3 linked regions of the Homo sapiens genome follow. The protein of the gene in region 1 interacts with the protein of each later gene in a biochemical or structural test. Each region holds a gene or a part of one and is shown on either strand. Other genes may lie near its edges.

The links. The genes of interacting proteins can lie anywhere in the genome.
Region 2: of the proteins of MET (region 1) and PTPRB, one has a biochemical effect on the other in vitro, tested with the Homo sapiens proteins (one study listed by IntAct).
Region 3: the proteins of MET (region 1) and RANBP10 form a complex in vitro, tested with the Homo sapiens proteins (one study listed by BioGRID).

The regions. Positions count from the first base shown.
Region 1 is NC_000007.14:116,666,091-116,676,270, reverse strand, and holds the start of MET (hepatocyte growth factor receptor isoform b preproprotein), read right to left. Parts: upstream 4,076-10,180; 5' UTR 3,694-4,075; intron 1-3,693. UniProt on the Homo sapiens protein: Receptor tyrosine kinase that transduces signals from the extracellular matrix into the cytoplasm by binding to hepatocyte growth factor/HGF ligand. Regulates many physiological processes including proliferation, scattering, morphogenesis and survival.
Region 2 is NC_000012.12:70,564,413-70,572,831, forward strand, and holds part of PTPRB (receptor-type tyrosine-protein phosphatase beta), read right to left. Parts: intron 7,676-8,419; coding exon 7,412-7,675; intron 7,039-7,411; exon of another isoform or gene 6,878-7,038; coding exon 6,614-6,877; exon of another isoform or gene 5,527-6,613; coding exon 5,263-5,526; exon of another isoform or gene 5,086-5,262; intron 2,293-5,085; coding exon 2,023-2,292; intron 1,493-2,022; exon of another isoform or gene 1,388-1,492; intron 1-1,387. UniProt on the Homo sapiens protein: Plays an important role in blood vessel remodeling and angiogenesis. Not necessary for the initial formation of blood vessels, but is essential for their maintenance and remodeling. Can induce dephosphorylation of TEK/TIE2, CDH5/VE-cadherin and KDR/VEGFR-2.
Region 3 is NC_000016.10:67,722,553-67,727,962, forward strand, and holds the end of RANBP10 (ran-binding protein 10), read right to left. Parts: intron 5,345-5,410; coding exon 5,199-5,344; intron 4,887-5,198; coding exon 4,775-4,886; intron 4,007-4,774; coding exon 3,876-4,006; 3' UTR 518-3,875; downstream 1-517. UniProt on the Homo sapiens protein: May act as an adapter protein to couple membrane receptors to intracellular signaling pathways.

The sequences.
Region 1 (10,180 bases):
CCCATTATATAATCGCCTGTGGGCCCTATAGCTACATAATTTATTATAGAAATTAAAATCAATGGGAGTAACCTACATAAACATACTTGCACACATTTATGCAATCACAGAGAGAAATATGTGTACCTGGGTATGTGATTACAAAGTTAACTTTTTTATTTCACTGAGCTCATACCTCCTGCTACAAATGCCACACGTGATTTTTTCTCTCAATTAAGTTTTACAGCTTATAAAAGCACTTTTTTCATTTTGTCCCATGAAAAGCAAAGTAGTCAGATTTTACTGGATGTTTTTATTGAAACAAATCCCAAGCGGAATATACTAACCTGTTTAACACAGCTGAAAAGATATCTGAGAATGGGCTTTCTGATAGAAGGATAGATTACAAAATTATTCACGGCTCTTAATCTGATAACAGGAGCAGAATGCCCCACACATATGAATGAAACCTTTTCTCGGTATGTCTCACTACAAAGAAAAGAAAAAAAGAAAAGAAAAGAAATTAAAAAAAAAAAAGAGAGAGAGAACTGGAGAAAGAGAAGGTGACAAAAACTCCAGGGACTAGATATGTTATATTCATCATTTACCACTATCTTAAGCATCCCTAATGATGCCTCCATGGAAAATGTTTCCAATAGTTGATGGCTGAGGAAAGGTGGTATGGTGCTATTGAAATAGCATGGAGCTAGTCTCAAGCTCAGTTTCCTTGTCTATAACATAAGAATGTTAAGATGTTATCAGACTTGCCTATCTTGTAAGGTCGTTTTGGTATCAGAAAGGTGATGTATGCAGAAACAGCTTGAAAATGTTAAGGTTTTTAAGTTCCAAACTTTGATTTTTAAAAAAAAATTCTATTATTTCATAGCAAATAGGATGATTTTGAAAGCGTTTCTCATGTGATGTCCTCTTAATAATTATGAATTTGTGTTCATTTAATATGTGATATTTGTCTGTGTATCTAGATCATAAACTTCTCAAGGGCAGATTCCATTTCTTTCTTTTAAAGAAAATGCTGTAGTACCTAGCACATATGATACTCTACCTATAGGTCCTAGCTATTTTTGGTCAGGCAAATGTGGATCTAGCAGCAACTCAGTGTCAGTTGAGAACACATCATCAAAGTGATTCTGAACTAACATTAGTCAGTGTATCTATCATTTATTACTGAGAAGTGACTATTTATTTTGCACTGAGCAAAACCCATGAAGAAACTCTGCCCTAAGGGCTTGGTGTCAAAAACACTAGTTTCAGCATACACCAGCCAGGAAAAGAAGGCTCACTTCCGGACACTTGAGTTTCTACATACATTTTCTCCCCTTAAGAGGGCACAATGAGGAAATTGAGTATCCTATGAATAAACACAGCAGACCAAGGAAATCTTAGGGATTTAGACCACGGAAAAGAAAGCGTAGATGGCTCTGGCGAGAATCACTAAGCCTAATGCCTAAAGAAGAAACGAGCAAACTGGGCTGGAGAAATGGGGGCACGGAAGGCCTTGAAAGCAGCTCTGACCAAACCAAGGGAAAGGGTTGAGGAGGAAGAGGACAGAGAAATGGGAGGTAATCTGAATGTGTGAGGAACTGTGCTCACCATGGGGGTGTTGCCATGTCTTTGGTGCAGCCACTTGGAGAAAATAAGCCAGTTAGAGGATGTTAGCTCCTCTGAGTTATTCACGTTGTTTTGAGATGACCACATTTGAGAAAAAGTTAATTTGAGACTATTATGTAGATCTGCAGAAGGATAATATGACTAATGCTACTTCAAACACTATTTTAAAAACAGCTAAGGAAATTGATTTTTGAAATGTATTTCTTAGTCTAGCCCTCATTAAGACAATTTTTTTTTAAAGATTTCAAGATTAATGCAAGGCATATACTTACATAGTCTTAAAAGGAATTTATAAAATATGGGTATTTCTCCTGCTTAGCAAAGGGTCATTTTTCTCTATTATAGGTTTAAAAGTAGTGAAAATATTAGTTATGAGCTTTCGTATTGACTGGCTATGATTAATCTGGTACATTTTTTATCATGAAGATAAACTCCATCAACTAATTTTGAAAGCATGTAGTATACATCTAATGTAAACCCCTACTGCCATGTATCAAGAACAAAGCAATTTTGAAAAAGCAGTAGTCGGCAGACTGTCTTCTATATGCCACAAATTCCATCATGTTAAAAGCAAAATATATTTAAGTTAATAACTATAGCTTATACACCATTAAGTTTGAAAACGGAATAGAATTTTTAAAACAGCAGTACATTTTATAGGCTATCAGACACATTTTTGTACTACCAAAATTTCTTATGAATGATGTAAATTTTCCCTCTGTTATTCAGCAGTTCAAAAAGAATGAACATTGAATACACCACAGACTTGCAAATGATAGGAACCAAAGTACCTCACTTATGTTCCATTATGGAAGTTTACACGTTCAAAACAAAGCTCAATTAGCTTAGATCAAGGAAGGAAAGCTATGTACCTGTAAATAATCCAAGCACCACTTACACTGTTTACATAAAAATGCAATTTATGTCCCTGTAGCACAGAGAAACATGATGTACATCATTTTCAGATCATCTTCATGCAGAAAAAATTCATTAGTCAGCTATAATAGTTTAGCTGTAAGGGAATATAATGTTTTTCTGAATCCATTTGCATGGCAATGTGCATGTGTCTGGCTGATGAAAGCGACAGAATAAACCCCCACCCAAAGCTACAGAATGTGAACAGTCTTCTTAAAATTCAAGAGAGGGTCCAGATAGTCTATATTGCCTCCAACGTCAGTTCTTACAATCCTCTCACATTCATGGACCATCTTAACATAGCAATTAAAGTATCTTGATTATTTTGCCTAAGAGAGTTGACAATATTTCATTCTGCCCGAGGGCTCCTTTGAACATAAAACTGTGATAAGGTAAAATACACTGGGCAACTATTCATGCGTGAGCCATTGGAGCCCTCTCCAACTGCCAAATTAGCAAATGGCTCTTTTAAAACATGAAAGATATGAATGGGAAACCGTACTTCGGAGTAAATTCTGCATTGACAATAGTCAGGGAAAGTACTTTCACTGGTGCTTTAATTATCGGGTCAGCACTACGACTGGCCACATCGCTCAGCCTCTGGTTATAATCTATTTCACCTAATAAGATAGATGTCCACCACAAGCCCCAGAAAGAGATAAGGTACGATGGAAAATTGATGGATCACAAGCCCCGCGTGATTGCCAGAAATGAATTCAGACTTTCACAGAAACACCTGCCCCTTGGAAGGACCCCAACATAACACAGATAAAGCAAGGCTGGGAACAAGGAAACAGCTCGGCTCAAACCTTGCCAGCTGCATCACGGTGGGACGAGGATGACCGGATCCCTTTTGTAAGGGCTGAGTCAGATCCCAGCTTTAAAACTTGCTGGGCCGTAACAGTCACACATCACCCACTGTCCCAGCGCCCCTCTCCCTCCTAAGTCATACAGGTGGCCATCAGAAGCAACCCCCTAAAAAGACAAGCCCCATTCTAGTTTCGTCCTCGCCGTGGCCACGTCTCTTCAGTTTCCGAAGCCCCTAAACTCTAGCCCACCTACGTGGTTTTGCCCCCTGGAACAGCAGTCAGGTCTCTTAGGGGAACAAAGAAAGCAGAACCCCTGAGGCGAGGGATTGGGTACTGGATCTGAAAGGGGCTGCAATTTTACCTTTCGGTGCCCAGGAACCAGTGGAGAAGTCAGCGGCGCAAGGACCACACGCGCGCTCCGCGCCTCCCCGCCTCCTCTCAGCAAGTCAGCTGTCGCCCCGCATCTGGCTCGCGCCCTCCACTCGGCTCCGCATCTGCTCACAAAGCGCTCGGGGCGCCGCGGGCGGCGAGGGCCTCCGGGTCACCTGCGGCCGGGCTGAGCCCAGCGCCCCGCCCGCCCGCCGGCCGCACTCCCTCCGCCCCTTCCCACACGCGCGCTGCCCTGCCAGTGACTCAGCCGGGCATCGGCGCGCGCGGCCCGCGGCGGCCCGGGCGCGTTGGGGCCGGAGGCACCGCCAGGCGACCAGACTGAGGCGCTCGCCTGCCCGCCCCAGCACGTGTCTGTCTGCCTCGCGTGCTGTCCGTCCCCTAGTCCGCGGGTTCCGAGGACCGCTGAGGTGGGGACTGGCACCACCCAGAGGGAAATCGGCCCCCGCCCTTCCTGCCGTCCGCGCCGCGCCTGGCCCCGCGGGGGTCGCGTTTCCTCCCGCCTCTGCCCCGCCCACGACAAGGTGAAACTTTCTAGGTGGAGAAGTTTTCTCGCCCTGGCTGCGCGCTCTCCTCCCCCAGCTCAGGCAGTCTGAAGTTAGCACAGCCGGAGATAAGCGGGACCGAGTCTCCCCCTCCTGGCGCTTGGGAGGCGAGTGTCACCCCGGGCTCAGATGCAGGGCGCGCACCCTCCTGGCACCCCGCTCGCTGACCCCGGGAAGGGCGCGAGCTTTGCTCTCGGCCTCTCCCACGTCTCCGCTAACCGCCCCGCGCCCACCCGGGTTTAGAGAGATTTGGGCACCGCAGAAACAAGGAGTTCATTGTTAGAGGCGGAGGTAGAAGTGGATGGACGAATTGTCCCAATGATTTCATTATGCAACGATTATCCTCTACTATAATAACTCAAATTTCTGCAAGGAAGAACAACAGAGGAGTTTAACCCTGAGGAGACTTCCATTTCTTTTTTTCTTTTTTTTTTTTTCCATAGCCGGAAGCAGGCTGATTAAATAACTGGGCAAATAGCGATGAATAAGCACAACAGAACAAAAGTTTAATTCTTGAATGTTGAAATCTTATGATGATTTTTAAAAAAGAGCTTTTGGGGCCTCGGTGAACTCTATTAGGAGTAATTGTGTTGGGATAACTTTGTATTTCGCTATAAAAATTGGCACCTACAAGAGTAAATGAACACTCAAAGGTAATAGGATCTAAGGAACGGGCATTGCCGGTTAGAACTTGAGTTCGTTCCGGCTCTCATACCAACTTGTTCAATCATGGCAATAGATAATGAGACATAGATATCTTCGTTATTGAAAGTCATGGGTTAAAATAACAGTTACTATGCAGGTTCAGTTCTTATTTACTACAGAATGAAACATAGAAAAATGTAGTAAGAATAGTTATCATTTCCCAAGTGCCAGGCACTTGGAAATGATAATGTAACCAGAGGTTACATAAGAGTGATTTCAGTCCTCAAAAGAGATTACCTCTTGATTCCCCAGTTTTATGGAAAAGGAAAGTTCCCATTACGTTACTAAAGTCTTGCATTGAACCATTTTGCAGGTAAAGAAACTGAGTCCCTAAAAGTTCCCAGGAGAGTCACATAGCTGGTTAGTAAGAGGGGCAAAGTTAGAACTTAGCTTTCAGCCCAGTCAGGTGTCCTTCACACCATACCAAGAGGCCTCAGCAGGCTAAATAAACAACGCGGCCTGACTGGAGATTTCCTGATACGGCATGGCATAATTTATCAATGACTATAGCTCATTAAAAAACACTAATTTACTGGTAATAAGGCACTGGGCCTATTTATGGACAGATCAATTACAGATTTTGGGTTCAGTAACAGCTTTCAATAAAAGATGAATAAATTAATGAATTTAAAAAGTTTTACACACACACACACACACACACACACACACACACAGAGCCATAGTTGTCTAAAGGAATGATTAGAGTGCTGTTTCTATTTCCTGGTTTCCATAGCAATATGTTAACTGGATTTTTAGATCACATTATGTAGTTGCCTTAACAGGTTTTCTGAGTTTGAGTGCCATGATAAAAATATAAAAGAAAAAATTTACAATTAAAGTTGTAGAAAGACCCAGAAAAGCCAATGCAAACTGGAAAATAAAATAGATGATAAATACAAACAACCCGTTGTGTATTTTCAGCACTGAAACTTTCTAGTTTCTAATAACTAACAAAATTTCAATCCAGTTTTGAAACTGTATTGAAAATCATCATTTCATTTATCAACTGTAAATAAGGAGATAACATTTTATGAAATAACATAACTAACAATAGCATAACTAAAAGTATCTGGGTGTGTGAAGGTCAAGTAATTTTTACACACTACCTAGACAGATTTGATTGGGAAAATGTTTACAGATAATTTCAGATTTTTGGAAATGAATGGAAACAGATATTTTAAAAGGTAATAGGAGTTCTATAATTCAATTTTGGTTTTGCAGCAAACTTTTAATTGTTGCTATTTAACTTTCCTTGGGTTCATGTCATGGGTGATACACTGTATGATGAAGTTCTGTTGGTATTTTCTTAACCAAACCAAATCTCTTGTGGTCCACACTGTTGGCTGGCTAAGCCAGCATCTGTTCCCAACGAGATTTTCCTGTTCCTGCCTCCACTCTTGGGGCTTGAAAAGAGAAATATTTGCTTTCCCAGACTCCTTTGCAGCTAGACATGGCCATGTGATGTCATTCTGGTAATGAGGTATAAGTTGAAGTCTGATGGGGCCTTGTGGGAAAGGGTTTAAGGCTGGTGCCACCCCTTTTCCTTTCTTGCTTCTTGATTTCATATATGATGCCCAGTGAAGAACTAACCATCTTGTGACCAGCATGCAGAAGTTGGTGCTGACATTGCTGAGGTACAGCCCTACTGCCAGTAGACACCTGCTTCCAGATTTCTTGTTTTGTGGAAAAAAAACAAAAACAAAACTTGTTCTAGACACTGGTAGCTGGGACTTCTGTCACCTGCAGCTGAAAGCAATTAAAACTGATAGACCCCTCAAATTGGGAACAACATCTCCAAGACTGAGTTGAGCATAATAGTTAAGAGTTTTAGAACCAAACAACCTGGATTTCAATCCCAGCTATGTCTCTTGCTAGCTGTGTAGCTACAGGCCAGTGGATTAAACTCTCTCGTGTCTCATCTGTGAAATGGGGATCATGATAGGGTTATTGTGAGGATAAAATGAGGAGCTACAAGTAGAGCACATGGAACAGTGTCTGGTAAAATATAAATGATCCAAAGGCATAAGCAGGTCTTATCCATCCACCTGTGGATAACATAATGTTGAACTACAAACAGGATCCCATCTCTTAACTTTGAGATGGGTCTAGTGATAGCTGTGACAAAGAGACAGAGGAACAGCCACCTCCTGCTCTAATATGCTCTATCTTTTTTTCCCTCCCTTTAACACATTAAAATTTGGGTCTTTGAAGGCACTCTTGAAGTTGGTGCTGTTTTTGAAATAAAAATGAAAGCAGTCTCCTAAGAATAGGGGCTTCATGCTTGCAATGTATGGTGAATAGGGCCCACAGACATATACAGGTGCACAGAATGTTTTTAAAAGTGTGAATTGAGGTAGAAAGACCATATGATCTGCTGTTTGCCATTGACCTACCATCTTCTCTTGGGTTGTGTCTGGCCCACCTCTGATCTTGATTTCACTTTCTCCTGTAGGCATTAGGATCTGTGATCCCTGCCTTAAAGAGTAGTTACTCTGGAACTCCTTCTTTCACTCTGTTTTTCCCTTCCTCCTGCCCCATCACCCCTATTATTGTGCCTATGGCAAATGTCTCTACAAAAAGACAATAGAAGAATTCAGGTAATGTCACCTAATGTCATTTCTGAGCACAGATAAAATTTGGAAATGTAGGACTCCTATTACCTTTTTAGAGCTATGTCATGTATGTTCGAATGTTGAAGGTTTTGAAAATTCATGTGATAAAACAAAACAGCAAAACCGAACCAAAAACCAAAAAAACCCTTCTTAACTTTGCTTACCCTACCATCTCCCCAATTTAATTGACCACAAAATGCTTTGATTTTTCTTAATATCTTCAGTGTCAATTTTCTATAAAATTAGTTTTATAGATTATACATTTTAGGAAACTTCGCGTTAAAAATGGAACTGCCAGCTACAGAGGGTTAAAACTGGGCACTTTGGATATGAACTGCTTTTATGTTGATTTGTATTGGTCATTTATGTGTGGCTGGGCTGTCTAAAAATAAATATGCAATGTTAAGTTATCTAAAAATATGACTGAGCATACTTAATATTGAGGACAAGAACAAGACTGCTAGGCTACAAGCTAAAGTATCACAATGTTAATTAGAAGACCTAGGAAATTGTAGGCAGAAAAATTAAGAAAAAATTACCGTCTCCAACAGGGTGCTGCAATTTTGTTAGTGATTTGGTTCATTTTCACATCCAGCTTATGACCTCTCTCCTAAAATCAGGCAAAGGTATAATGTATTTAGCTGTCACTTATTAAATGTGTACCATGTATTCATCATGAGTCTGGAGCTCTGCTTACATCCTCATTAAAAGAACTCCAGAATAGGTATCACCCTTCTCGGTTTACATTGAGGGAAATGAGGCTCAGAGAGATCATGTAACCTATCCAAAGTCACACAGCTGTCTTAAGTCTGTGTCTTTCCAGAATGACTGCACTTCCATTATAATTATTTATTTATTTATTTTAATTGAGATGGAGTCTTGCTTTGTGGCCCAGACTGGAGTGCGAAGGTGTGATCTCAGCTCACTGCAACCTCTGCCTCCCAGGTTCAGGTGATTCTCCTGCCTCAGCCTCCTGAGTAGCTAGGATTACGGGCTCCCGCCACCATGCTAGTTTTTGTATTTTTATTAGAGACGGGGTTTCACCATGTTGGCCAGGGTGGTCTTGAACTCCTGATCTGAAGTGATCCACCCACCTCAACCTCCCAAAGTGCTGGGATTACAGGTGTGAGCCACTGTGCCCGGCCTCTGTTATAATTATTTTAAATTGTCTCCGGTTCTGTAGTGAATGATGCAGTCGTTTAACTGGGAGCAGTAGACCTATTTTTTTTAAGCTTTTATTTTAGGCTTAGGGTTACATGTGCAGGTTTGTTATACAGGTAAACTCGTGTCATGGGGGTTTGTTGTACAGATTATTCCATCACCCAGCTATTAAGCCTAGTACCCAAAAGTTTTTTTTTTTTTTGAGAAGTAGAACTTAAGGCACTCTTTCATTTTCCTTCTCTGTCTGCAAAGTCAGCCACAACCTAAGGCATGGCCACTTCTCTGCTGGCTTGATCATTGGGGACTGATGTTGCAGTGCAGGCCAAAGGTGCTATGCTGTCCATCTGTAGAACACTGCACAGGTCGGAGCCAGGGTCCTAGGCAGTCAAGCTGGCCTAAGTGGTGGGCTGTAGGTGCCTAGGACTCAGACCTGTGGGATGTGAAGAGGGACTGGAATGTTCCTTCTCTAGTGCCTCTGTTTTCTCAATTTCTGATCTCTCCTTTGGGAACCTAGGGAATGTGAGAAATAAAGGAAAAACCAGATGACAGGCAGTGAGAAGTCCTAAGAGAGGATATTTTGGAGAATCTCTGTCCTCTTGGAAGATGAGAAATTAAGGCCAAGACTTCCAAAAAGTCCTGGAAGGCTGCTTCCATAACTCTTTGACCTATCGATGCCTCTATCTCCAAAGTCATGTTCATTTATTTTTCTTTTCTTTCTCTGTCTTTTACCTTCTGGTAAATTTTGGGAAAGAAAATTTTCATTTTTATGCAGCATACTATAGCATCATTTCCAAATGAACTTATCCAGTCCATCTGTTAATTTAAACTTTGACACTAAAATAACCTATCTTGGAAAATAATGTGCCAAGAAAAATAAAGTGATTTTTTTTCATCGATCAGCATTTCATTAAGGATGGAGTTTAAAAATGTGTCTGTGAGTGTGTGAGTTTGTGTAATTACTGCAATTCTAGGTTTTATGGCTAACTTGATGTGTGCTTTGGTATTTAACCCCTGTGGATCAGTTTCTCCAGCTATGAAAACAGTTCCAAAGTCTGGTGAAAATAATTAAAAAATATTAAGTATCAACCAAAATTTTACTGAAGCCAGTCCATTTAAAGCCAATATACCAAACAATTTACTAATTGTAGTGTATGTAAGGGGACATTATATTAGAAAGTACTTCAGTGTGTGGTTCTTATTAACTACTGCCTTGTCCAAATATGATTAAGTACTTTATTCTATTCCAATAGGAATGATTTAATAATCAACTTAGGCATCTTTTATTTGGTGAGTCCAAAAGTAAATTAGACCATTTAAAAATGGCTACAAAATTTAACAGTTTAAGAGGGAATATATAGGTCTTATGGCATTGAAAAGGGATAGAATGTTTGGAGAGTTTGATTAGAATCAATGTAACTATTATACATGACTAACATAT
Region 2 (8,419 bases), on another chromosome or scaffold:
GGAGGCTGAGGCAGGATAATTGCTTGAACCCAGGAGGTGGAGGTTGTGGTGAGCTAAGATCGCACCACTGCACTCCAGCTTGGGCAACAGAGGGAGACTCCATCTCAAAAAAAAAAAAAAAAAATTGTAAGCCCCTTGACCAGGCGTGGTGGCTCGTGCCTGTAATCCCAACACTTTGGGAGGTTGAGGCAGGTGGATTTCTTGAGCCCAGGAGTGCGAGACCAGCCTAGGCAATGTGGAGAAACCCTGTGTCTACAAGAAAATACAAAAATTAGCTGGGTGTGGTGGCACATGCCTGAAGTCCCAACTACTTGGGAGGTTGAGATGGGAGGATTGTTTGAGCCCAGGAGGCAGAGGTTGCAGTGAATTGAGATTGTGCCACTGCACTCCATCCTGGGTGCCAGAGCGAGGTTCTGTCTCCAAAAATAATAAATAATAATAATAATAATAATAATAATAATAATAATAATAATAATAAATAGATAGATAAAATTGTAAGCCCCAACTCTTGCTATCCCACCTTCCTAACTTAATTTCCTTCTTGGTCTTTATTACCACCCAACCTCCTACATCTTTTACTTATTTATTTTATTTATTGACTTTCTTCCCCACTAGACTATAAACATAATGACCATGGGAGTTTTTTTATTCACTTCTGTATATCCAGCAGTTAGAACAGTGCCTAGCCTATAGTAGGTACTCAATAATAAATGAATTGATAGGTGGATCTCCTCACTTCTGGTTCATTTCCATTCAATCCATTCCCCCATTGCTATCTGATTTATCTTTTTAAAGATACATCTTTTATTACAAAACAATTACTCTCTGGCTAAAAGTTTTGTATTGCTTTAAGATAAAATTCCTGAGGAAGGCTACCAGGCACCCTCTAATTTGGCTCCAATCTGGCTTTCAGTCTCACCTTTCCATCATGCAACACACATTTCAGCCACCCACAACTTCTCCTTTCTCCTGTTCATACCTCTTGGCCTTTGCACAGGACAGACTGTCTGTACAAAGTATTCTACCTTCTCTCCATAAGGAGAATTTCTTCATCCTTCAAGGCAGTACTGAAATGTCACTTTTATGAAGATGTCTCAATTCTACCTGACCTCCATGCTTCCCTGAATGCCAGACATCCCTCTCTTATATGTACTCTTTATCACAATGCATTGCCATTATTTGTCCATGTGTCTGTCTCGTCAGTCAGCTCTTTAAGGACGAGAAGCATGCCTGATTCATCTTTATGTCCCTGTCAACATAACCATCCCCGCCTTCAGACCTATGTACTTAATAAATAAGTTATCAATCAATTAGGCCAATGTGGTTGTCTGAATAATGGCCCCAAAGATGTCCATGTCCTAACCCCCAGAACCTGTGAATATGTTACCTTCTGTGGCAAAAAGGGCTTTGTAGATGTGATTAAGTTAAGGATCTTGAGACGAAGGAATTATCCTGGATTGTCCGGTTGGTGACCAAGGTAATCACAAGAGTCCTTAAAAGATGGAAGAGGGAGGCAGGAGAGCAGAGAAAGAGATGTAAGGTCCCATGCAGAGATTGGAGCAATGTCACTGTTGGGAGGGGGACACGAGCCAAGGAATGTGGGCGGCCTCAGAAGCTGAAAAAGGCAAGGAGTGGATTCTCCCTCTAAAGTGTCTACAAGAAACACAGCCCTGTTGTCTTGATTTCAGTCCCAAAAAACCATTTTCAGATTCTAATCTTCAGGACTAGAAAATAATAAATTTGGGTGGTATTAAGCCACTAAGATTGTGATAGTTTATTATAGCAGCAATAGGAAGCTAATAGCACCAATATTAATGAAAAATCAGAAACAGAGTGTGGTGGGCTGAGTCCTGCGTGGATAGGGCAACTGACATGGAAGTGGCAAATCAGGGTGAATGTTCCCAGCGTATCAAGAGATAGATATCATCTCCCAATGTTGCTTCATCCCTCTCACCCTGGGGTTCTTACACAATAGCAGACATTGGCAATATGTGCTACAAAACATTATGCTGTGCTAATTACCTGTTCGGCCTTCAGTCTGGGCTTCCTTGCTAAAGAGGCCTCCACTGACAGTTAGGATCTGTATCTTGTATTTCTTGCCTGGTGTTAGATCTTCAAATTTGTGTTGCTTAGTGGTGGCTGGCTCTGATGTGTTGCGCAGAAGGATTCCATTTTCAGTTAGAAGCAGGATATCATATCTTTCTGCCACACCAGCAGCTTTTTGCCAACTTACTATTAAGGAATAACTGCTGTATGCATTGTCTGCAATTACTCCTTGGACAGATGCTGGAACTGCAGAGAGACAAGTGGAGCAACAAAATACAGATTTTATCACTTAGGGTAAAGTCATCAATTGAGAAAAACTCCTGAATCAACTGCAGGTAGAAGATGATGCATTTGCTTTATTTGTGTGTCATTGACACTTTCTGTGTGCCCTTATGGAGAAAAGAGGAGAAAGGATTTGTTGGCTTAACCTGTCTGTACAACTACTTTGATTCTCCATTTTTTCTCTGATTTTAAATAGGATCTCAGATAGAAAAGTTAGTGAAAATGGCCCTGATAAATATGCAGAGTGGTGCATACCTATGAATCTAGAAAGTGAAGAATGCTGAGCAAGTTCATGTTCAGTGAATGTGGGTTTGACAGCTGAATTATGTCTCTTGTTTAGACTTTTATTACTAACATTAACTAAGGTCAAAACTTCAAGACTTGACTTCAGCAGTAGTGGATACTAGTATTTGTTCTATAGCTCCTGAGGTGAAAGGCAAAATAGTATTATTGTTATTATAATAATATTTTCTGTACTAGGTTCATTTCTTTTCTCATTCTACATAATCTTCCTAGATTTCGTCTATGTCCATGGTTTGAAGTGTCATCCATAAGGTGACAACTCCCAAATTTAAACTTTCAGTTTAGATGTTTCTCCTGCTTTTGCAAATTACATCTCTCCCTGAATGTACCACAGACATCCAACACTCAAGACGTCCAAATTGGACTCCTCATCTCCCTCCCCCAATATTCTCATTGTTTTTTTGTTTCTATCTCTTGGTTCAAGTCAGAAACTTCAGTTATCACTCTCACCCTTGTATATATAATCAAATACGAGTTTTATTTCTGTATCCTAAATCTTCTATCTCTTGAATCTAGCCACTCCCTCTTTGTGTACTGCTACTACCTCAGGACCACATCATACCCTTTAGCAAGTATAAATGAGACCATACATTATTGCAACTGCCTATTGACCAGTCACTTGTGTCCTTACCTCCTACTCTTTCAATCTGCAGACTCTATCTAGCATATTTTCATAGCACTCCCATGCTAATGGCCCTATAGTGGCTCTCCATAATTCCAAAACACCTTCACAGGCAAACAAAGCTCTTTGTGATTTGGTCTCTCTACTTACCTGGCCACATGCCTCACATTTTTTATTCTAGTATACTTTTGCTTTTTATACTTTTAGTAGAGATGGGGTTTTGCCACGTTGCCCAGGCTGGTCTCGAACTCCTGGACTTAGGCTATCCACTCACCTCAGCTTCCCAAAATGTGGGATTACAGGCATGAGCCACCGTGCCCGGCCTTTATTCTAGTATACTAAAAAAGGTGTAGGTTCCCAAATGTGCCATCCTTTCTCTCACCTCCAGGGCTTTGTTTTCTCTGTTGGAACGAAGACAACTTACACTTCACCTGGATGACTTCTTAGTCTTTCTTTAAATATTACTTCCTCCTGAAAGCCTTCCCTGACTCTTCTTGTTTGCTCCTCTAACATCTCATAACCACTTTTTTCTTAGCACGTACCATGTTTTACTGTAATTGCCTTTTTACTTTTCTATCTCCTTCACTAGATTATAAGGTTCTTGAGGTCAGGGGCTTTGCCTTGCTACTGAATGCCCACTTTCTTTTTTTGGAGACAGAGTCTCACTCTGTCACCAAGCTGGAGTGCAGTGGCATGATCTCAGCTCACTGCAAGCTCCGCCTCCTGGGTTCATGCCATTCTCCTGCCTCAGCCTCCCGAGTAGCTGGGACTACAGGCGTCTGCCATCACACCCAGCTAATTTTTTGTATTTTTAGTAGAGACGGGGTTTCACCATGTTAGCCAGGATGGTCTCAATCTCCTGACCTTGTGATCCACCCACCTTGGCCTCCCAAAGTGCTGGGATTACAGGCGTGAGCTACCGCGCCTGGCCCGAATGCCCACTTCTAACACAGGATTTGTCATAGGGTTAAAGATATGCAGATATAGATATAAATATAGATATGAAATAGAGGCATAGTAGGGCATGGTATAGAAGCCCCAGACCCCACAACTAAATAAGTGGTCATGAGAATGGGAGACATCTAAGAAGTATTGTGTCACAGTGGAGAGGGCACGAGGTTTGGGGCCAGACAGACCTAGACTTGAATTATAGCTTTAGGTCTTGTTATATACGTATCCTTGATACTGTTTTACAAGCTTTCTGAACTGTTCTTTCCTCATCTGTAAGAGAACTATAGTATGGCTAGAGATCTTTCAAAAATAATACATGAATAGTGATATTGATATAAACAGATATATTATTCATACATTTGATACTTGTTTTTTTAGCTCTACCAGGTAAAGTAGATGGCACAGATGTGTACTCTTTCTTAAAAGGTAGAACTTTTGAAAAATGCATAATTATGGAAGTCTCCTTATTAAAATTTATTTATTTATTTATTTACTTATTTATTGGGACAGGGTCTCACTCCGGTTGCCCAGGCTGGAGTGCAGTGGCACGATCACGACTCACTGCAGCCTTGACCTCCCGGGCTCAGGTGATTCTTCCACCTCAGCCTTCCAAGCAGCTGGGACTACAGGTGTGCACCACCACGCCTGGCTAATTTTTTGTATTTTTAGTAGAAATGGGGTTTAGCTATGTTGCCCAGGCTAGTCTCGAACTCCTGAACTCAAGCAATCTACCTGCCTTGGCCTTCCAGGGTGCTGGGATTACAGGCGTGAGCTACTGTGCCCAGCCTGCTTGTTAAAATTTAAAATTTTATTATCCTTTAGCAAGTATAAAAATGTGTTCAAATGATTTGGTTTCTGATTCCCTTTCATTTGTTTTGCAGATCTCTATTAAGAGAAAAATACAAAGAATAAATGAGTAAGGCTCTTGAAACCATTGAATTGTACAAACTTTGGTGGTTTTAAATCTGGATTTGTGAATAGCTGAGCCCGTTCACTGTCCCATTTTGGAGAACCATGAGGCATTCTACAATCTAGCCCTTCTCCAGGTGGATGCTTACCTGTCCGCCCAACCACATTTATCTGATTCTTCAGGGACCCGCTGACTGAGGCAATCATGATCTGGTACTGCTCCCCGGCCTCCAGTCTGTGGAACGTGTGCTCAAAGACGTGCTTGGGAATAGTCTGAGAGTCAACCTTTTGACTGTGCCTGAATGCCGACACCGTGTAGGAATCAACGTCTCCCCCACCAGGAGTCCAGTTCACCGTCAGGCTATCTGTTGCTCCATTGGGAGAAATGTGAATATTTTTGACAGCACTAGGAACTAAAACAGAAAATAAATTTAAAAGTCATCACTTAGAGAATGAACTGTTGAAATTTTCAAACAAAGTTTTGAATGCTTCTGATGTTTTGGCACCCACTGAGAGAACTCACATGAAAAAGAAAGTAACAATTTGCCACTTTTCTCTGATTTTTCTGTGTGAACTAAAGTTGATGGGGGAAAGCTTAGGGGGAAGTCAAAGCCGGTGAGTGGAAATGAGGAATGCTAATTATATAGCGAGGGGCTAGTTAGGGTGTCTTGGTCCAAGTTTTGGTTTTCTCACTCACTAGCTGTGGGACTACAGGCAAATTACTTGACCTCTGTAAGTTTTAGTTTCTTCATTAGGAAAAATGGCAGTGATGATAATACTAACCAGCCCATAGAGTTGTGAAGATTGATTCTTTTTTAATTTAATTTTATTTTATTTTTGAGGTAGGGTCTCTGTCTGTTGTCCAGGCTGGAGTGCAATGGCATGATTATGGCTCACTGCATCCTATACCTCCTGGGCTCAAGTGATTCTCCCACCTCAGCCTCCCCAGTAGCTGGGACTACAGGCACGTAACACCGTGCCCGGCTAATTTTTTTGTATTTTTTGTAGAGACAGGGTTTTGTCATGTTGCCCAGGCTGTGCTTGAACTCCTGGGCTCAAGCTATCCTCCTGCCTTGGCTTCCAAAGCATTGTGAAGACTGAACAAGATGTAGACATAAAATGCTTTGCTGTGGGTCTGGTTCATGGTGAACTGTCAGTACATGTTAACTACTATGGCAACACTCCTAAAAGAGTTCTAAAGAAGTGATACCCAAGTAACACTTAATTCTTAATCTGTGTGCCTCAGAAGCACCAGCTGATCACATCAGTTCATTGCTATTTCTCTGAAAGCACCCTCCAACCCCGCCACTCTCTGCTGACATCATACTTTATTTTCATTCATCCAGGTTGGACAACATCATTGTCACTATCAACATGACTTTGTCCCTTCTTGCTGTCTCCCTTTTATCCCTCCAAATGCTCAATCGAAATACCTGAACTACCCGAAAGTTAAATGCACCACTGCATCTATTCAGGTTCAAGAACAGTATTTCACATTACCTGTGAAGCCCTCAATGAAGGCTGACTGCTGTACATCCCCGCTAATCGTCAAGACAAGAATTTTGTATTGGCGGCCTGGTGTTAGGGAAGTAAATCGATACTCGGTTGCGGTATTTACAAGGTGAAAAGGAGGAAATACTTTCATGTCATTGAAGAGCAGCTGGATCTCATATTGGTCGACATCCCCATTAGCTCCTGACCAAGTCACATGCAAGTCCTCAGTGCTCCTGTTGCGCAATGTTAGATCCTTAACAGGCTCTGGAACTAGGGAGAAAAATGAGAAGACATTTCAGGAAAGGAACTGATCAGAGTTTACCTACATAATAATTTATGAATCACATTCAAGGAACTGGCAACATCTCCCTTCCCCAAATAAACCACTAGCACTACTTCATGCATAATTAAACAAGAAAAATTGGAAGCAACTATTAACATTGTGGTTTTTTCCTGACATAAATGTTACATGATCAGCATTGGTAGAACATAATTATAAAATGAGTTATGATCTCAATCATAAGATAAAACAAGAAGTCTAGAATCTAAATGCCATGATGCAGGAAGATAGGGAAGAAAAATGGGACATTTAGCCTTCTTGCTCCCTCACTATGTTTGCTTTTATCTACCAATAAATATTCTGTAATTATAGGCCATGGCTTGGCTGAATGATGTTAGCACCAAGTGAGACTTACTGGGAATGTAATGTACTAATGAATAAGCAGAAAAAATTCAAGGTTCAGATAAATTACTAGAGACTTTCAAGTCCAACCAACTGTCAGATTTTGCAATCGTTCCACTTACTTGTTCTCCCATTCCCTTGTTCATTGGCTTCATATTGTCCACTTTTTGTAGTAACAGTGACACTGTACAACCGTCCAGGGACTAGCTGAACAAATACACATTCGTTTTCTGACTTGGGAATGCTTTTAGTTTGAATGAAGTTGTTTTTGTTTTTAATGGTGACTTCATAGTGATCAAAGTCTCCAGTGGCATGCACCCAGGATACCCTTAAATAGTCACTCCTGGCTGAGTTGCTAACACTGACTCCCTGGACTTTGTCAGGCACTGAAAAGGAAACAGAGAGTAACTAAATATTTATGAATTCTGAGTGAGTAATTGATCACAGATGACAAGCTGGGACAATAAAAAGAGAGAGTAGATTATTATTGTGTGCATTTAAAAGAAAAATCTTAGACCTTAGGTTACAAATTTCTGGAGGGGAAAGATTGTTACACTATGTGGAGTGATTAAACGGATCTTTTAACAGAAGCTGATGAACTCATTCTAAGCCTGCTGTTTGCCTGCACAAAGTGTCATGTATAAGATGGAACATTAAACATGATGGCTGATGATTAATATGAGTGATGGTAAACGATATAGATAATTCCAACATACCTTGCTGACTCAAAAGTTACTAAGAAGAATATAAGCAATCCCCCAACCCGCCCCCCTCAAAAAAATGAGGCTATGCATGGTGGCTCACACCTGTAATCCTAACACTTTGGGAGGCTGAGGAGGGCAGATCACTTGAGGTCAGAAGTTTGAGAACAGCCTGGCCAACATGGTGAAACCCCGTCTCTACTAAAAAATACAAAAATTAGCTGGGCATGGTGGTGCACACCTGTAGTTCCAGCTACTCGGGAGGCTGAGATGGAAGAATCACTTGAACCCAGGAGGCACAGGTTGCAGTGAACCAAGATCACATCATGCCCCTGCACTCCAGCCTGGGTGATGGAGCAAGACTCCATCTCATAAAAAAAAAAAAAAAAAGAAAAGAAAAGGAAAAAGAAAAATGGAAGAAGAAACACA
Region 3 (5,410 bases), on another chromosome or scaffold:
TCACTCTGTCACCCAGACCGGAGTGCAGTGGTATGATCTCAACTCACTGCAGCCTTGACCTCCTGGGCTCGAGTGATCCTCCCACCTCAGCCTCCTGAATAGCTGGGACCACAGGAATGCGCCCCCATGCCCAGCTAATTTTTGTATTTTTTGTAGAGATGGGGTTTTGCCATGTTGCCCAGGCTGTTCTCGAACTCCTGAGCTCAAGGGATCCACCTGCCTCAGCCTCCCAACGTGCTGAGATTATAGGCGTGAGCCACTGTGCCCAGGCTCTTTAGTTGAATTTGCTACTTTTTCCTTGTATAAGAAGAAAGCCGTTTCAAGAGAGAACTGAGGTTTAAGTACCTGTCCTCTTTGGGGTCTTACAAATACACAGTTTCAAAGGTCCTTGAAGAAGGCACCTGAGGGCCTGGGCACTTGAGAGGCTGGGAAGGGCCCAAATCCTTTAGGACAGGATGTGTCACAGAAGGGGTGCCAACCTCAGTAAGACTCAAAACAGAGACCAGACACACATGACTGCTCATGGATGTGTATTTTAATAAAAATAATTCTGTCAAAATACAACAGAGTTTTTTTTTTGTCTCTCAAGTACAATTTTAATAAGATGTTTTGTGTTAGAGTTCTCTCTCCATCCTCCCACACCCACAAGTTTCATGCTAATGCCAAGTATCAACTCTTGAGGACAAAGGCAAAACCAGTGTGCACAATGTGGAGGATGTCTGTTGCAGCTGTAGTTACTAATGCAGGAAAACCCAATGCAAAGAGGAAAATGCCTGAGGCAGCCAGAGGCCACAATCTGGCCACAGGTCTGGGTGCATGAGACTGGCAGTCTAGTAGGGCTCCGCTGCCTGGCTGCCACATGGGTGCATACCTGAGTTGTGAGCAACCAAAGGAACTTTCAGCTCTGACAATTCTCTGCCTCATCTTCTTTGTGCTTGCTTAAGGAGTGGGAAGGCGCTAGGTGGCCAGGCAGTCCCCACTTCTGTCTCGTGGTGTCCATTTTGATGGCCTGCACCCAGCCACAGACCCATGAGGATGGGGATGGGGGTTCTGGCTTGCTATGAGTGCCAGTTTTTGCTCTGGAAGGAGTGACCATTTGGTGCCGCAAGGGGAAAGTGAGTAGGGAAGGCTGCTCCCCAGGGCCGGACAAACCAAGAAAGCCAGGTCTTCCTCCTGCCTCCATGGGTCAGGTCCAGCCCTTCACCAGGGCTCCCCCAGGTGCCTTTCCCACTCTAGGCTCCTGGAAGCAGGCTGGTAGGACTGGATGTGCATAAGGGGCACCTCTGGCTGGCAGGCAGGCAGGCCTGGACTCTCAGCAAGAGAGTGGGCTCAAGCAGCTTGGTTTTGGCCCTCTCCACAGCTTGTGGGGCAAAGGCTTATGTCCCAAAGGTGAGCTGCCCAACTGGGACAGAGAGCCCCTCTGGAGAGGAACAGAGTAAACAACTTGGACTCAGCTGAAACAGTGAGATAAGGCACAGAAAATGGGGAGGTGGCCATGGGTACCAAGTGCGAGCCAGGCAGACACCCAACCCCATGCAGCACACAGCTGTCCCGAGCCCTCCTGGGCCCTCTCAGCCACTCCACAACCTAAGCTCAGGCACCCGTCCTCATCCCTGACACACCCCTGAAGGTAGCAGCTTCTCAGATACTGCTGGAGGGCACATCAGCCTGACCCCTCATGGGGTTTATCTGCCATTCGGTTTCAGGACTAAATAGTGTTGCCCAACCCACAGGGATAAGGGATAGTCCCGGCTCTGCTACTAATTTGCTATGTGACTTTAGCCAAGTCACTTAATCTCCTGGGCCTGTTTCCTTATTTGTAGCAAGAGAGGAATGGGGGAGATGTTCACTGAACCCCATTCCAGCTGCAAAAGCCTGTGGTTTTAATCCAATCCTGCTAGGCTATGATCATTTAAACAGCCTGATGTCTCCAACTTCTGGGTTTGGGAGCTAGGTAGCCCCAGGCTGTCACAAGAGATGAATTTCCTTTACAGACAGGACGCCTCCTAACAGGCCATGGTCTATGGGTCTGCCAGCCCCAAGGACCAAGAAAAAGCAGCAGCTATAGGATCATTTCCCAAGGCAGAATTCTGACAGCACAGGGCCCAGGGCCCTGGCCCCATCACCAGCAGTTGGTCCAATTCAAACATTTTTCTTGTTGCCCAGCTGTGGGCCCAGTGAGGCCTGGTGAGCAATGGGTATCTCAGGCCACACCAACCATTCCCATGTCCACCAATATGGAGCAGGAGCTTGCAAAGCCCAGATTCAGGCAGGGACTGAAAGTTCAACTTCCGGCCTTGCCATGGCTGACCCTACTCTTTGCATGGGCGGCTTGTGCACTCCCCTCACAATGTGAAGCACATATGGAAATTCCAGCCGTCCTGGTGCTCCTCTGTGTAGACTTCCTCCCTTTCCTCCTCCAGGGCAGCCAGTCCTCTCCACAGGTGGGCCACCCCAAGTCCTGGCAACCATCTCAGTCTTTCCTTTCCTGATTCCCCAATGGTAGCGGGACCACTTTTACTCTGCCAGCTGTAAGGATCTATCTGAAACAGCTGGTGGGACATGTGTAAAGCTGATAGAGTCCCATTCTCTGGCCAGCAAATACTCCCAATAGTCTTTCCTAAGAGTGGCTAGGGCCCAGCTGCAGGGAGCTGTCTGGCACAGTGGCAGTGAAGTCTGGCCTAGGGGACCAAGGATTCCATCCACTCCCTGGAGTAGCAGCCCAAGAACCTGCCTCCACAAGGTACTGGTTTCTCAACAGAAAGCATCCATTCTCTCAGAGCTGTGCAGAGATGGTGAAGATCTAGGCAGGAAGAAAGCAGCCCCTGTACTCAAGGGCCTCTGTCCTGGGAATGGAGTCTTCTTTCCAGCAGCCTGACACACAGAAGCTCTCAGGACGAAGGCAGGTAGTTTCCAGGCAATCAATTTAGAGTAAATGTATTATTTGGCCATCTTAACAACAAGGGAAGATAGGGTATTGAAAAGGGAGGAAAGGGGAGCAAGGCAGGCAGTGGGAGGTGGGGTAGAGTGGTAGATAGTGTGCTGGCCAAGGACCCTCTACCTCTGCTGTGTGGCCCTGGGCCAAGTTATCACTTCTCTGGACCCTTGGCCCTGTAGTTCTCTGCTCTGTCCAGCTCTCAGGGGCCTAGGGATCTACAGTTCTTGGGATGCTATAAACCAATGTAACCATGCCCACTAAGTGGCCCACCAAACCCTATTTGGGTTTCCTAGGCTGCAGCTCGGCCTGTGACTCAAAAAAGGGGGAGCAAAAAATAAATCACTTGGCTGAGGTGACAGAGATTCTTCTTTTTTAATGAGTTGGACTCAAAGAAAACATGGTGCCTGGACAGCCTCACCCAAGAGGTGCTGGACCACTAATGCTACGATAAATACTGTCTTTTTTTTTAATATATATATTTTTATATATATATATATAATCTCATTTGTTTTTTACTTATGAAAATAATAAGCTATCACCAACTTGGATAGGCTTCATCACTAAATTAGCAGAAACCAGCTCAGCACAAACTCTCCAGAGATAAATACTGGTGGCTCAGTCAGGAGAAAAAAATTTAAAAACCCCAACCCCTCCTCAAAACAAAACCCCCCTTTCAAAATAGAAGGCGCTACATGAGAGTAACCAGCCAATACTGTGTTACAGGCCGCTGCACGTGAAGGGGAGAGAGAGAGAGACTGAGCGGGGTGGTGGGCAGAGAAAGGAAGGAAGGAAGGAAAGGGAGAGGGGGAAAGGCCAGGCAGGAGGAGTGGACTCTGTCTATGGTTTCCCAGTCCCTGCACCAGTTGCCTATGGAGGGCAGGGCAGCTCCAGCCCTGGGGCCAGTGGAGGGCCAGCCAGAGCCAGCCAGCACAGTCAGCTAGTGCAAGTAGTCATCAACTCTGGCAAAGGAGCAAGAACCCAGGCCTGCTCGGGCCATGAGCCGGAGACACTCAGATGCCTGGCCCAGGGCGAGCATCAGAGGGGGCTGCTTTGGCAGGTTCTGGGACTCTGTGGAGGAAAGACAAGGCCTGGTCACTGGCCTGCCCAGGGCTTGGGCCCAGGTCAAAGTTCCCTTGGGGGTGGAAGGAGGGGGCAGTGGACAGATTCTCTTGGAACAGAGTGTTCAGTACCTCTGTGTAAGTGTGTCCCAGCCACCAGGCCATGGCCCTGAAGTCATGCCAGGAACCTGAGGACCTTAGCCCCATGTAGAGCGCTGGGCTGGCCTGGGCCTACTGCCATGGCCTAGGACCCATCATGAACTCAGCTGGGCAGACAGAGGTCAAGGTTTAGGTTCAACCATGGGAGCCCAGGAGTCCTATGAGTCACCAGAGAGGGCCTGTACAGAGCTTGCTGCCCCAGTGTGGATAAACATCAGCTCTTTCTGGGGCCAATTGGGGTGGGGGTTGGGAACCACCCAGGTAGCTATGGGCTAGCTTCTGTTTTTGTTAGATCCACTCACCTAGGCCAGGCATGGTGGCTCACACCTGTAATCCCAGCACTTTGGGAGGCTAAGGCGGGCAGATCACCTGAGGCCAGGAGTTCGAGACCAACCTGGCCAACATGGCAAAACCCGTCTCTACTAAAAATACAACAACTAGCCAGGCGTGGTGGCACGCACCTTAGTCCCAGCTACTCAGGAGGCTGAGGCACGAAAATTGCTTAAACCCAGGAGGCAGAGGTGGAGATTGCTGTGAGCCAAGATTGTGCCACTGCACTCCAGCTTGGGCTACAGAGCAGACTCTGTCTCTAATAATAATAATAAATAGATTCACTCACCTAAAATGGCGCTGTTGAGGGCAGCACACACAGGTTCCCTCTGGATGGGGTCAAGCTGCTGGCCAACTGGGCAGCTCCAGGGGTCTGAGTATGCCAGCAGGCTGAAGGCATCCTACAGGACAGGGCATTCTTGAGAGGACTGTGGCACACACCATAGCTCACCCTGCTACCCGTGGCTCCAGAGGGAGACAGGGCCCTGCATGATGCCCAGCCTGGAATGTGGGGTGTAGGGTCGGGCAGGGCTGTACTCTCCCCAGAGCCTAGGTGTGGAGGGCACATGTCCAGTGGGCCCAGATGCCCCACTTCCCTCTGCAGACCTGGCTGGAGCCCACTCTTTCCTGCTGCCCCCTGGACTCTCCCAGAGCCACCCTGCCCCCAACACCAAATGGGGCCTGCTCTGCATGAGGCCCGGCTCATCCTGTACCTGCAGCATCTCTGTGTGGGCCAAATTCTTGCCGTACTCCCGGCCCAACTGCTCACTCAATGCCTGCAACTCGCGGCCAAACAGAATGATCCTTTCTGTGGCAGCCTGGTTGCCCCCGCAGAGCTGCCGCCGAGGATGCCTGTCATCTGCATCCAGAACCCAGTGGAGAACGTGTTAGGAGGGGTGAAGAGGGAAGGGCAGGACTAGGGTGG